Linked DNA regions of Homo sapiens: region 2 is linked to region 1. The links come from fine-mapping of genetic effects on gene expression. A gene starts in region 1. The other region holds a variant in brackets. All regions are shown on one strand. Distances are between the middles of the regions.

Region 1 (5,381 bases):
AAAGATATAAAGTACAGGTCTATGAAAATGTATGAAGTCTAACCTATGAAAAGATTTATTTTTTGCATGTGTACATTCAGTTCTACTACCATTTGTTGAAAAGACTAACTTTTCTCAATTGAAAATTGATCCTTTGTCACAGATTAGTTCACTGTATTTGTGTGGGTCTACCTCTGGGCTTTCTACTTGGTTCCATTGACCTATTTGTCTATTTTTCACCAATAACACACTGTCTTAATTGCTGTAGCTTTATAGTAAGTTTTGAAGTTGGGTCACGTCAGTTTTCTGACTTTGTTCTTCTTTTTCTGCATTGTGTTGACTATTCTGAATCTTTTTTTTTTTTGAGACAGAGTCTCGCTCTGTCACCCAGGCTGGAGTGCAGTGGTGCGATCTCGGCTCACTGCAAGCTCCACCTCCCGGGTTCAAGCGATTCTCGTGCCTCAGCCTCCCAAGTAGCTGGTACTATAGGCGCCCGCCACCAGGCCTGGCTAATTTTTTGTATTTTTAGTAGAAACGGGGTTTCACTGTGTTAGCCAGGATGGTCTTGATCTCTTGACCTCGTGATCAGCCTGCCTCGGCCTCCCAAAGTGCTGGGATTACAGGCGTGAGCCACCGTGTCCAACCTGAATCTTTTACTTTTATATAAACTTCAGAGTCAGTTTGTCACTATCCACAAAATAATGTGCTGGGATATTGATTGAGATTGTGCTGAATCTATAGATCAAGTTGAGAGGAAATGACATCTTAACATATTGAGTATTCCTACTCATGTACATGGAATATCTGTGCTTCCTCAATTTCTTTCATTAGAGTTTTAAATTTTTCCTCATACCAATTTTTACATAATGTATTAGATTTACACCTAAGTATTTCACTTTCTTTGGTGCAATATAAATGGTATTGTGTTTTAAATATCAAATTGCAATTGTTCATTGCTGGTATATAAGAAAGCAACTGACTTTTGTATATTAACCTTGTATCCTGCAACCTTGCTATAAACAGACATTATGTTTATTCTGCAGACATTTGGAGCCATAAAAGCATGGGGCAAGAGTGTTGTACTATTATATCTTGTTCAAAAAAAGACTAATCTGGAAGTAATATGTAGAATGGATTGGAAGGAGAAAAAAACAAGGCAAGGAGTCCATGTGGGAGGCTTTTATGTGAGCCCTCCATAAGACAATGAGTTTCTGAATAAGGGTGTTGCAGTACCAGTGAAAAGGTAAGAACAGATTCAAGAGGCAAATATCCTAAATTCGGCCTTCTTCTTCAGGCTTACAGGTCTTTTCATACACAATTCTGTCTTTGGGAGGCGCTTAACACTCTCTTCACCTAACTTCTAATTATTCCTCAAAATTCAGTTCAGGTGTTGTGCCCTCCAACAATCCTTCCCCTCTACTATCTTCCCGTAGCCTCCTGCAGTGTCCTCCATCACACTGTAAGTGCTATTTATATTAATATAATCTACTTGTCTATATACTTACCTGCCTGTCTCTAATCTCTTTCATTAAATCATGAGCTCCTGGCAGATCACGAGGTCAGGAGATAGAGACCATCCTGGCTAACACAGTGAAACCCCGTCTCTACTAAAAATACAAAAAAATTAGCTGGGCGTGATGGCAGGCACCTGTAGTCCCAGCTACTCGGGAGGCTGAGGCAGGAGAATGGCATGAACCCAGGAGGTGGAGCTTGCAGTGAGCAAAGATCGCACCACTGCACTCCAGCCTGGGCGACAGAGCAAGACTCCGTCTCAAAAAAAAAAAAAAAAAAAACTCATGAGCTCCTGAATTTGTGTAGCCTAGTACCTGGCCCAATAAGTATATGCATAAATGAATAATGTATTCACTTCTGTTGTAGGAACTTACAACATTACCAAGTATGTGGCAGGCATTATATCATATTTATGTGACATATTTTCTCTTAAGAAACAGGAATCATAAAGCTTCAAAAAAAAACACTGAAGCCTCAGATGAGGCAGGAAGCACTCATTCCATATCAGGAAGTGATCAGTTCCTCAAAACTGTGAGTTTTCAGTCATGTTGTTTCTTTAAGTTGGTTTAGCCTTCCTGTATACATGTGATAATGATACTGTTTTAAAGAACAGGTGTGAAAGTCTAAGAGTTTAATCCAGACTCTGCACAAGAAGTTAATCTGCCAAACCCTAGGATTCTCCTTCTGAAAGCTCAGAATATTTCTTCCCCTTCCCTATACACACAGGGCTCGAAGGGTTAGAGAAGAAAGGCAGACAACAGCTTCTGAGCTTTGGACTAATCACAGCCTCTGTTCTCAGCAGGAGCCCCAACACTGAGACCAGGTAAGAAAGAAAGCCTCAGGGCTGGAGCGAGTAGAGCAGTAAAGACGGCTGGGAGGTAGTGGTCAGATAGAGGGTAAATATTTCAGGAGGGAAGAGGGAAGAAACTTTCTGATATGACAGCCATCAAATGCATGAGTACTTGTGAAAGAAAATGGGATATGCCAATCAAAGGAGAGGTCATATTTCTGTTTCCTGGGCTTCAGGTTCTTCATAGAATTGTGAGACTATGTGAGAAAGAAGATTTTAAAGGGAGCTGTAAAATCTTAAAAGGCAAAATAAAAATCTAAATAGTTATGATTAAAAATTTTGCTCTTATTGCTTCTCCTACTATAACTATCTTCTCTCTTTCTACACAGAAAAGATGGTGCTATGCTTTCCTCTTCTTTTACTGCTGCTGGTTCTATGGGGACCAGTGTGTCCACTTCATGCTTGGCCTAAGCGTCTCACCAAGGCTCACTGGTTTGAAATTCAGCATATACAGCCAAGTCCTCTCCAATGCAACAGGGCAATGAGTGGCATCAACAATTATACCCAGCACTGTAAGCATCAAAATACCTTTCTGCATGACTCTTTCCAGAATGTGGCTGCTGTCTGTGATTTGCTCAGCATTGTCTGCAAAAATCGTCGGCACAACTGCCACCAGAGCTCAAAGCCTGTCAACATGACTGACTGCAGACTCACTTCAGGAAAGTATCCCCAGTGCCGCTATAGTGCTGCTGCCCAGTACAAATTCTTCATTGTTGCCTGTGACCCCCCTCAGAAGAGCGATCCCCCCTACAAGTTGGTTCCTGTACACTTAGATAGTATTCTCTAAGGCATCCACTGCATTTCCTTTCATTTGACATAGCTTCTGTTACAATTGCATCCATGTTTTCTTTTCTTTTGTTGATTTTCTTGTTCCCGTAGAAGAAAGAAGAAAGGTGTTTGGAGAATTCGAGTGCCTAGGATGCCAGACCAGAGTTGAGACAAAAAGAAATAAGATTATTTTCTGCTTTGTAGTTCTGTACTTTTCGAGAGAAGGGAATAGGGAAGACAGCAAAGAAAGATTCAGATTTCTAACCCTGCAACTTTTGCCAAGCTTTATTGCCCTGTGTTCACAGCAATAAAACCACTTCCTGCTGCATTCTAATGAGTGTGTGTTTGAGATCCGCTTTCAAAGCATTGTTGACCGGTACTCAGAGGAACACTGTTTTGACTTTAAGTCCCTAGAAAACTTTTGAGGCCTCCCTGGGGCCCCACTTCCTTGCCCACAAGAAAGGACAGCGTTTGGGACTTTGGAGCATTTCTTCAAACTCTGCTCATGACTTTATATATTCCCCTGGAAACCATTGTCTATGCTTAATTGGAGGTAGTACTGATACCTCAAAGACAGTTGATGATAACTCACACATAGATTCTGTCACTGGCAACTGAAGGATCCTATGTCTTTTCTATTTGTTTCCGTTTTTAATCAGATAATGTTTTAAATATAAGGTGATAGTAGTAGTAATAGGGATAATAATCCATTGTAGTAACCTTAGGGTCAATCCTCCATTATTTATTGAAATGGATAAATAGAAAGCATAGATCAAGAAAAAAGCACTAGGCTTGTCGTGGTGGCTCACGCCTGTAATCCCAGCACTTTAGGAGGCTGAGGCAGGTGGATCGTCTGAGGTCAGGAGTTCAAGACCAGCCTGGCCAACATGGTGAAACGCTATCTCTACTAAAGATACAAAAAAAGTAGCTGGGCGTGGTGGCAGTGCCTGTAATCCCAGCTACTCGGGAGGCTGAGGCAGGAGAATCGCTTGAACCCAGGAGGTAGAAGTTGCAGTGAGCAAATATTGTGTCACTGCACTCCAGCCTGGGCAACAGAGTGAGACTCCCATCTCAAAAACAAAAAAAGAAAAAGAGAAAAGCACCAGGAGACCCAATGCAGTGGCTCACACCAGTAATCCCAGCACTTTGGGAGGCCGAGGCAGGCAGACGACTTGAGGCCAAGAGTTTGAGACCAGCCTGGCCAATGTGGTGAAACCCCATCTCTACTAAAAATACAAAAAATTAGCCAGACATGATGGCAGGAGCCTGTAATCCCAGCTAATCAGGAGCCTGAGGCAAGAGAATCGCTTGAACCTGGGAGGCAGAGGCTGTAGTGAGCCGAGATTGCACCACTGCACTCCAGCCTGGGTGACAGAGCGAAACTCCCGTCTCAAAAAAAAAAAAAAAAAAAGGAAAGAAAGAAAGAGAAAAAAGCACTAGGAAACTAAAAACATTCTAGTCCTATGTAAATACTGAAATACCACAGAAGTATTGGGGTTTTGGAACAGAACCTGAACTAAGCCATTTCACAGAAGGAACTTCAGTTTCCTTGTCAACCTCTAGAGTCATTGGGCTAGTGGGCCAGTGTAAATCCCAAGTGCTTTGTACAGTGATGAGTCTTCAAGTAGCAGCCAAAGACAATGAAGTTTTTTTGAAAAGGCTACATATTGTAGTGTCTTCATTACCTGTGCTGCAAATGATTCTTTCCAAGCCAGACTATTAGTTTAATAGATATGCTAACTCAGCTCACCTTCCTTTACGCTACACATTTATGTCATATCTTAGGAACAAAGAATGGAATATGAGGTTTCAGGAGCCTGGATTCCAGGGTGATGACTGATCAAGGGCCCTCCCATTGGGAAGAGATTAGCAGGTCAGGGCAATATGGCACCTAAGAAGGTGGGTACCTTATAGAGGGAATCCTACAGTGGGACTTGAGTGCTCTAACTCAAAGCAGCTTTCAGTTGTATTCAGCTTTAAGCCATGTTGCATTTACATTTTATTGTCTCAGAGTCTTCATGTAAAGTGTGGTGGAATGGCAGGGAGAATCTGTGCTCACGTTTGGTATGAACAAGTATACGAAAGTAGCAGCATCTGAAAGGAAAGGGGTTGAATGGATTTATATGAACATTACCTGGAAATTGCCAGAGATTCTTAAAGGTAATCTAGTAAAACCAAACAACTCAATTGCTCATGCTATTGTTATTTATATAGTAAAGGTATCTCATGGATTGAATACATCTGTGCTGCAAAAATTTTTCAACTGTCAGAA
Region 2 (5,381 bases), 66 kb before region 1:
AGCAAATCTCACTCCAGCAAAGGAATTTGGTATTCCAGCATATAGAGGAAACTGTGTCTCAGCTCCAGATCTCTGTGTCCGGCAGTCTCCAGACTCTCCAGGGTCTGGAGAAAGGCTGTTTGCTGCATCTTGCCAGCGACAACCATCACAGGCACTGTTTTCCTAGTACTTTCAGTTTCTTTAGTGTTTCTACCTGAATAAGTCACACCAGTATTGATTAAAAAGTCAATCAATTTGTTCCCCATTGTCAATCGTACCTGAGGTTCCTGTGGGGAAATTACAACCTGCTCCAAAAGATTTGGGCCTCCTTCACTATCTGAGCTACAGTCCTGCTTTACCATCAGCCAGTATGTTTCTTCTCTGTCACTGTGTCTCCCTTCTTCTGGTTTCCCTGTCTTTTCTTTAATTTGGGGCACTCAGATTTCCAATGACCTTCCTCCTTGCAGGGGGCAGACTGATCATTACCTAGAGTTTTGTTCTGGCCACCTCCCTGTGCCTGGTTTTTCCTTTTCGGATATACATTCTTTCCACTAATTCCAAGTATATCATGGCTTGCTTTAGCTTTTTGGCCTTCCTGGCATTATATACTCTGAAGGCAATGTCCAGCAGTTGGGAAAGGTTTATTCCAAATACCCCCTCCAGTTTCTGCAGTTTTCGTTTAATATTGGATGAAAGTCACGTTTACCATTCTCATATTCTCAGGAGCTTCTGGATCATAGTCCATACACTTGTGGTAAACCTGGTAAATGCACTCCAGAAATTCACAGGGGTTCTCATCTGCCTTTGGGAGAACTGCCCTGGCTTTATTTAAGCTCTTTTACATTCTTCTCTTTAACCCTGCCAACACATGCTTTTTATAATGACTGGACAGGGCCATTCCTCCATTGTTGGGGTCCCAAGTAAAATCTGCAAGTGGAGCAGCCATTTCTATTCCTTCCCCATCCTGGGGAGAGGAGCTGACACCTTGGCCTCTCCGGGTCCTGGGCTACATTTGGTAATCCTGGGAGGGCTGGTGCCCCCAGTACCACATGGGAGGGGAAATTTAAGATATTTATGAGGCCCATATCATCAATATCCTCTTCCTTTTGGGTCTTACTATCTGGAAAGAGAAATCTCTTTTTCCCTTTTCTCTACGTCATTCACATAGACCCCTCATGTGCTGAGTCTTTGTTATGTAATAAATGCTTAAACACATGGAATCTCATTTCATTTCCCAGATCTTAGGCAAAATAACGCCAACTGTAATAAGGTGTACTAATGTAAATCACTGTTCAGTAGCCACCATTTTTCAGATTCCAACACATACATAGGCCAAACAGTGTTACAATGAAAAAAAATCATTATCTTTTTTGTTATGAGTTCATAGCTATAAGCTTTCCAATAAGCCAATATACAGCCCAATGGCCACTTAGATGGAATGGAAGTCAAGTTGCCCATTCTCAGGGGAGAGATCAAAAGAACACAAACACACAGATCAACACAGAGTACTCCTGAACCAATTCCTGTAGAAGGAGACTGGGAAGTTAATAAATCTTAGGCTAACTGATACTGCAAAAGACCTGTGTCAGGTCCAAATGGCATAAAGCCCAAATGGCAGAGACAGAGGATTTCTAGCATGCAAACTGGTTTGATTTACCCAGTCTTGAATCCTGTCAACTTCCTCAACTATCATTTTCCTTATACTAATAAAGCATTGCAGGCAGCTGATGCCACAGAGGGGGAAGGAGGGAAAAGATGTTCTTGGCAGCTGCTGGGACAACCCTAGAATCCCAGCTGGGAGGTCAGCTAGCCACGAGCAGCTAATCCTCATGAGAAGTTGTTGCTCTGCCTGGTAGCATGAATGAGTAAGCCCTGGCATGATGCCACAGCCAATTGCTCCATCCATCGGAAACCAGGCACGCTAGACCAGTAGAGACATATAGCCCCATGCTGGGTGATAAAAAATGTAACCAAACTGTTGGAAGTAAGTGCTCGGTGCCACAGAGTGAAAATAGCACTCAGGCAAAAATTTTCTCAGCAAAGCAATTTACTTCTATAGAAGGGTGCATCTCTCAGATGGAGCAATGGTGAGAGCACACCAGACAAGGGAGGAGAAGGGCGTCTTATTCCTAATGCAGCTAGTCCCTACTGCTGTGTCTTTCCCCTGTTGGCTAGGGTTGGACCACACAGTCTAAGCTAATTCCAGTTGGAAATTTTAAAGAGAGTGAGTGTATGAGCTGGAGTGGTGGGGTGAGTAGTTTCATCAGGGAAGGACAGTTACAGAACAGGAGAGTAAGGATGCCTAAGGACAGAACAGGTGATAGAGGCTAGGAGGGGGTTG[T/A]TTACTGAAACTAGAGGCAAGGAGGTGTAAAGAACAAGGAAGTTAAACTTCAAAATGGAGAACAAAGAACAGGGAAGCTGAACATACTGACGTATTTGTTCTTTGAAGAGGAACTCAGAACTCATTGTACTTAAATGATTTTTTTCTCCCTCTTGAATTTTTTTTTTTTTTTGAGATGGAGTCTTGCTCTGTCACCCAGGCTGGAGTGCAGTGGTGCAATCTAGGCTCACTGCAAGCTCCGCCTCCTGGGTTCACGCCATTCTCCTGCCTCAGCCTCCTGAGTAGCTGGGATTACAGGCACCCGCCACCACGCCCGGCTGATTTTTTTGTATTTTTTAGTAGAGACAGGGTTTCACCATGTTAGCCAGGATGGTCTCAATCTCCTGACCTCATGTTCTGCCTGCCTTGGCCTCCCAAAGTGCTGGGATTACAGGCATGAGCCACCACGCCCAGCCACCATCTTGAATTTTAAAGGAAGTTAACAGGCTAACTCTGAAGAGGAATTTACTGTATCCTACAATCTCCCCCCTTTCAATTTTCATAGGCCTTCCTCTTCAAACCTTTTTAACATGTCTTGGCTTTGCTGCTTGACTTGATCCTCTAAAAGAAGAAAGCTTTTCTGAATAAGGTGGAGGAAAGTTAAGGGAGGTTTTAGTAGGTGCTGTTTCTTTGCACTGCCCCACGGACGCATGGTATGACACAATACCCAACAAGAATGAGTACACCTATTACGGCTGCAAGAGAAGTAAGAATCGAGGCTATGATCTTTTCCATCTACTGAACCACCTTTCTAGCCATCCTGAGAAAGGGTTATTGACTCCAGAATCTTTAACTAATTCATTGGATAAAGCAGTAAGTCCTTGTAAGACCCTTGTTATGCTCCCAGTGGGGGCAGTGTTGCTTGGGATAAAGGTACAGCCCTGAGTTTTAATCATAACACCAACACTGCCTTTTTCAGCTAATATCACATCTAGGGCCATTCTGTTTTCCCAGGCCATCTGGCTAGTGGGCCCCAATTGTTCTGCTATCCCTTTGACAGCATCCCTGGTGTAATTAATAAACCACTGCTAATTATAATAGACGTAATTTATCCAATCTATGTTTTTATTAATTGTCACCCACAAAATCCTGCAGCTATTTAATCTTGACTCAAATCCTGCAGCTATTTAATCTTGATCTTTAAATTTATCTGGTACTCCTCATGGGACTCCAATTGCATCTAAATAAATGTGGGAGTTGAAAGACCCATAAGGAGCTTCCCTTGTTTTATGATGTTGTATTTTTCCTCTCTCTGGTTGATGAAATGCTAGGGTGGAAGGGATAGCCAATTAAACTAGAGCACAAGTGCTGCTCCAGTTACTTGGCAGAGAGTCCAGTAAAGGTCCACCACAATACCACCATACATATGCTTGGGGATGAACAAGGGCTGACTGATTGGTAAGCTCTTGGAAAGTCTTAAGCTCACTGCATCTTTTTAGGTCTCCAAGGAATGCTAAGTTTCCTCCCTGTAGTGAGAGATATGAAGTGAACTTAGCGTCAGGGGACAGAAGCTGAGTGGACCTTGGGGGCTGACCTGCAGGGTATTGAACCTCAGGATATAGCAGAGAGAGCTTGACACGACTTTTTACCCCAGGCTGTGTAATCCTGGAAAAAAGTAACCATACAGCCCATGCCTAGTAGACTAAAGGACTATCCTAATGGAAAGGGGACAATCTGGGCTTCTGGTCTGCCGTGCGCACAAGCATAACAAATGCTTTTGTTTAAAGTGTGGATGGAATGTTTGATCCACTCCAACCAGGCATTAGCATCTTGATATTCTGTCTCAATTGCCAAAGTTTGTTTTAGGTCTTTAACTTCTATAATAACTACCTTGGTCTTGTCATTAGATGGAGGAGAACAACAGTTTTGTTGTGAGAGCTTCTGGAAGAAGGCTTAAGGGAAGGTGTAGGCGGCAGAGGATCAATGAATTGTGTTTCAAAGGATCTGATAGGGTCTGTTCCTGAAACCTCAGCCCCCACACCATAAAACCGGCTTAAAGAAGGGAACCGGCTTAGAGAAGGGGAAGAGCTTTGAGGGTTTGAGATAATAACCTGTATTGGATTGCACGGTTCAGCTGACAGCTAGGTGAAGCTGTTCCTTTAGTAAAGTGAATATATGACTTTAGGAAATTACAACCACTGGTTGGGGCAGCTCATCCTTGCTCTTTAGTGGTCCACAGAATGTTGGACCAACTGTGGCATAAAAGCTCTGTCTTGCAGGAGCAAGACTCCCAGCTGATACTGGGGTCTTTATTGAAATCTCTCCAGACTAAATGATCCCCATTCACTAATGTCCAGTCTGAGGAGAGCCGGGAAGGACAGAGGTACTTTTCTGAATTGGAGAGCTGTCTTTAACTTGACAAGTCTCCACAAGGTATAACAAGGCAAGCATCAAATGTAATAGTTTGAGGTGAAATTGACTTTGTTACATTAATAATGAGGTGGTCAGCAATAGAATGAGGAAAGAAGAAGGAGTAATAAGAGAGTTAAATTTTTCTTAGCTTGGCTCACGCCTGTAATCCCAGCACTTTGGGAGGTCGAGACAGGTGGATCGTTTGAGGTCAGGAGTTCAAGACCAGCCTGGCCAACATGGTGAAACCCCATCTCTACTAAAAGTACAAAAATTATACAGGCGTAGTGGTACACGCCTGTAATCCCAGCTACTCGGAAGGCTGAGGCGGGAGAATTGCTCGAACCCGGGAGGTGGAGGTTGCAGTGAGTGAAGATCGCACCACTGCACTCCAGCCTGGGCAACAGAGCAAGACTCTGTCTCAAAAAAAAAAAAAATTTCTTAGCTTTAGTTTGGTAGGGTTTTCCCCTGGGACTATGGCCCACGACTCTGGAGGGGGCGGCACTTTCTTGACTTGGGTGTGATAGGTCCATCCTTTTTCTGCTGTCTGGACTGCGCTTTCAGTAGTTAGGAGCACTAGATAAGGTCCTTCCCAGGCCAGTTCCAGCTTTTCCTCCTTCTAGTTTTTGATGAGGACTTGATCCCCGGGCTGATTTCGATGTACTGGGAACTC

Evidence for each region.
Region 2: its variant is fine-mapped to the expression of RNASE6 in whole blood (TOPMed, PIP above 0.99).

What each region holds. Positions count from the first base shown.
Region 1 is chr14:20,779,025-20,784,405 of GRCh38, forward strand. RNASE6 (ribonuclease A family member 6) reads left to right here and starts at 2,244. Exons shown (of 2, transcript NM_005615.5): 1 at 2,244-2,314; 2 at 2,671-3,443. The coding sequence starts at 2,676. The coding sequence ends at 3,128. The region is part of intron 1 of LOC107984671 (a long non-coding RNA gene); the gene reads right to left. RefSeq lists an enhancer at 3,319-3,388.
Region 2 is chr14:20,713,230-20,718,610 of GRCh38, forward strand. It overlaps LOC124903282 (a long non-coding RNA gene), which reads right to left and starts at 2,494. Exons shown (of 2, transcript XR_007064061.1): 1 at 1-2,494. The variant T/A (reference allele first, on the strand shown) is at 2,321.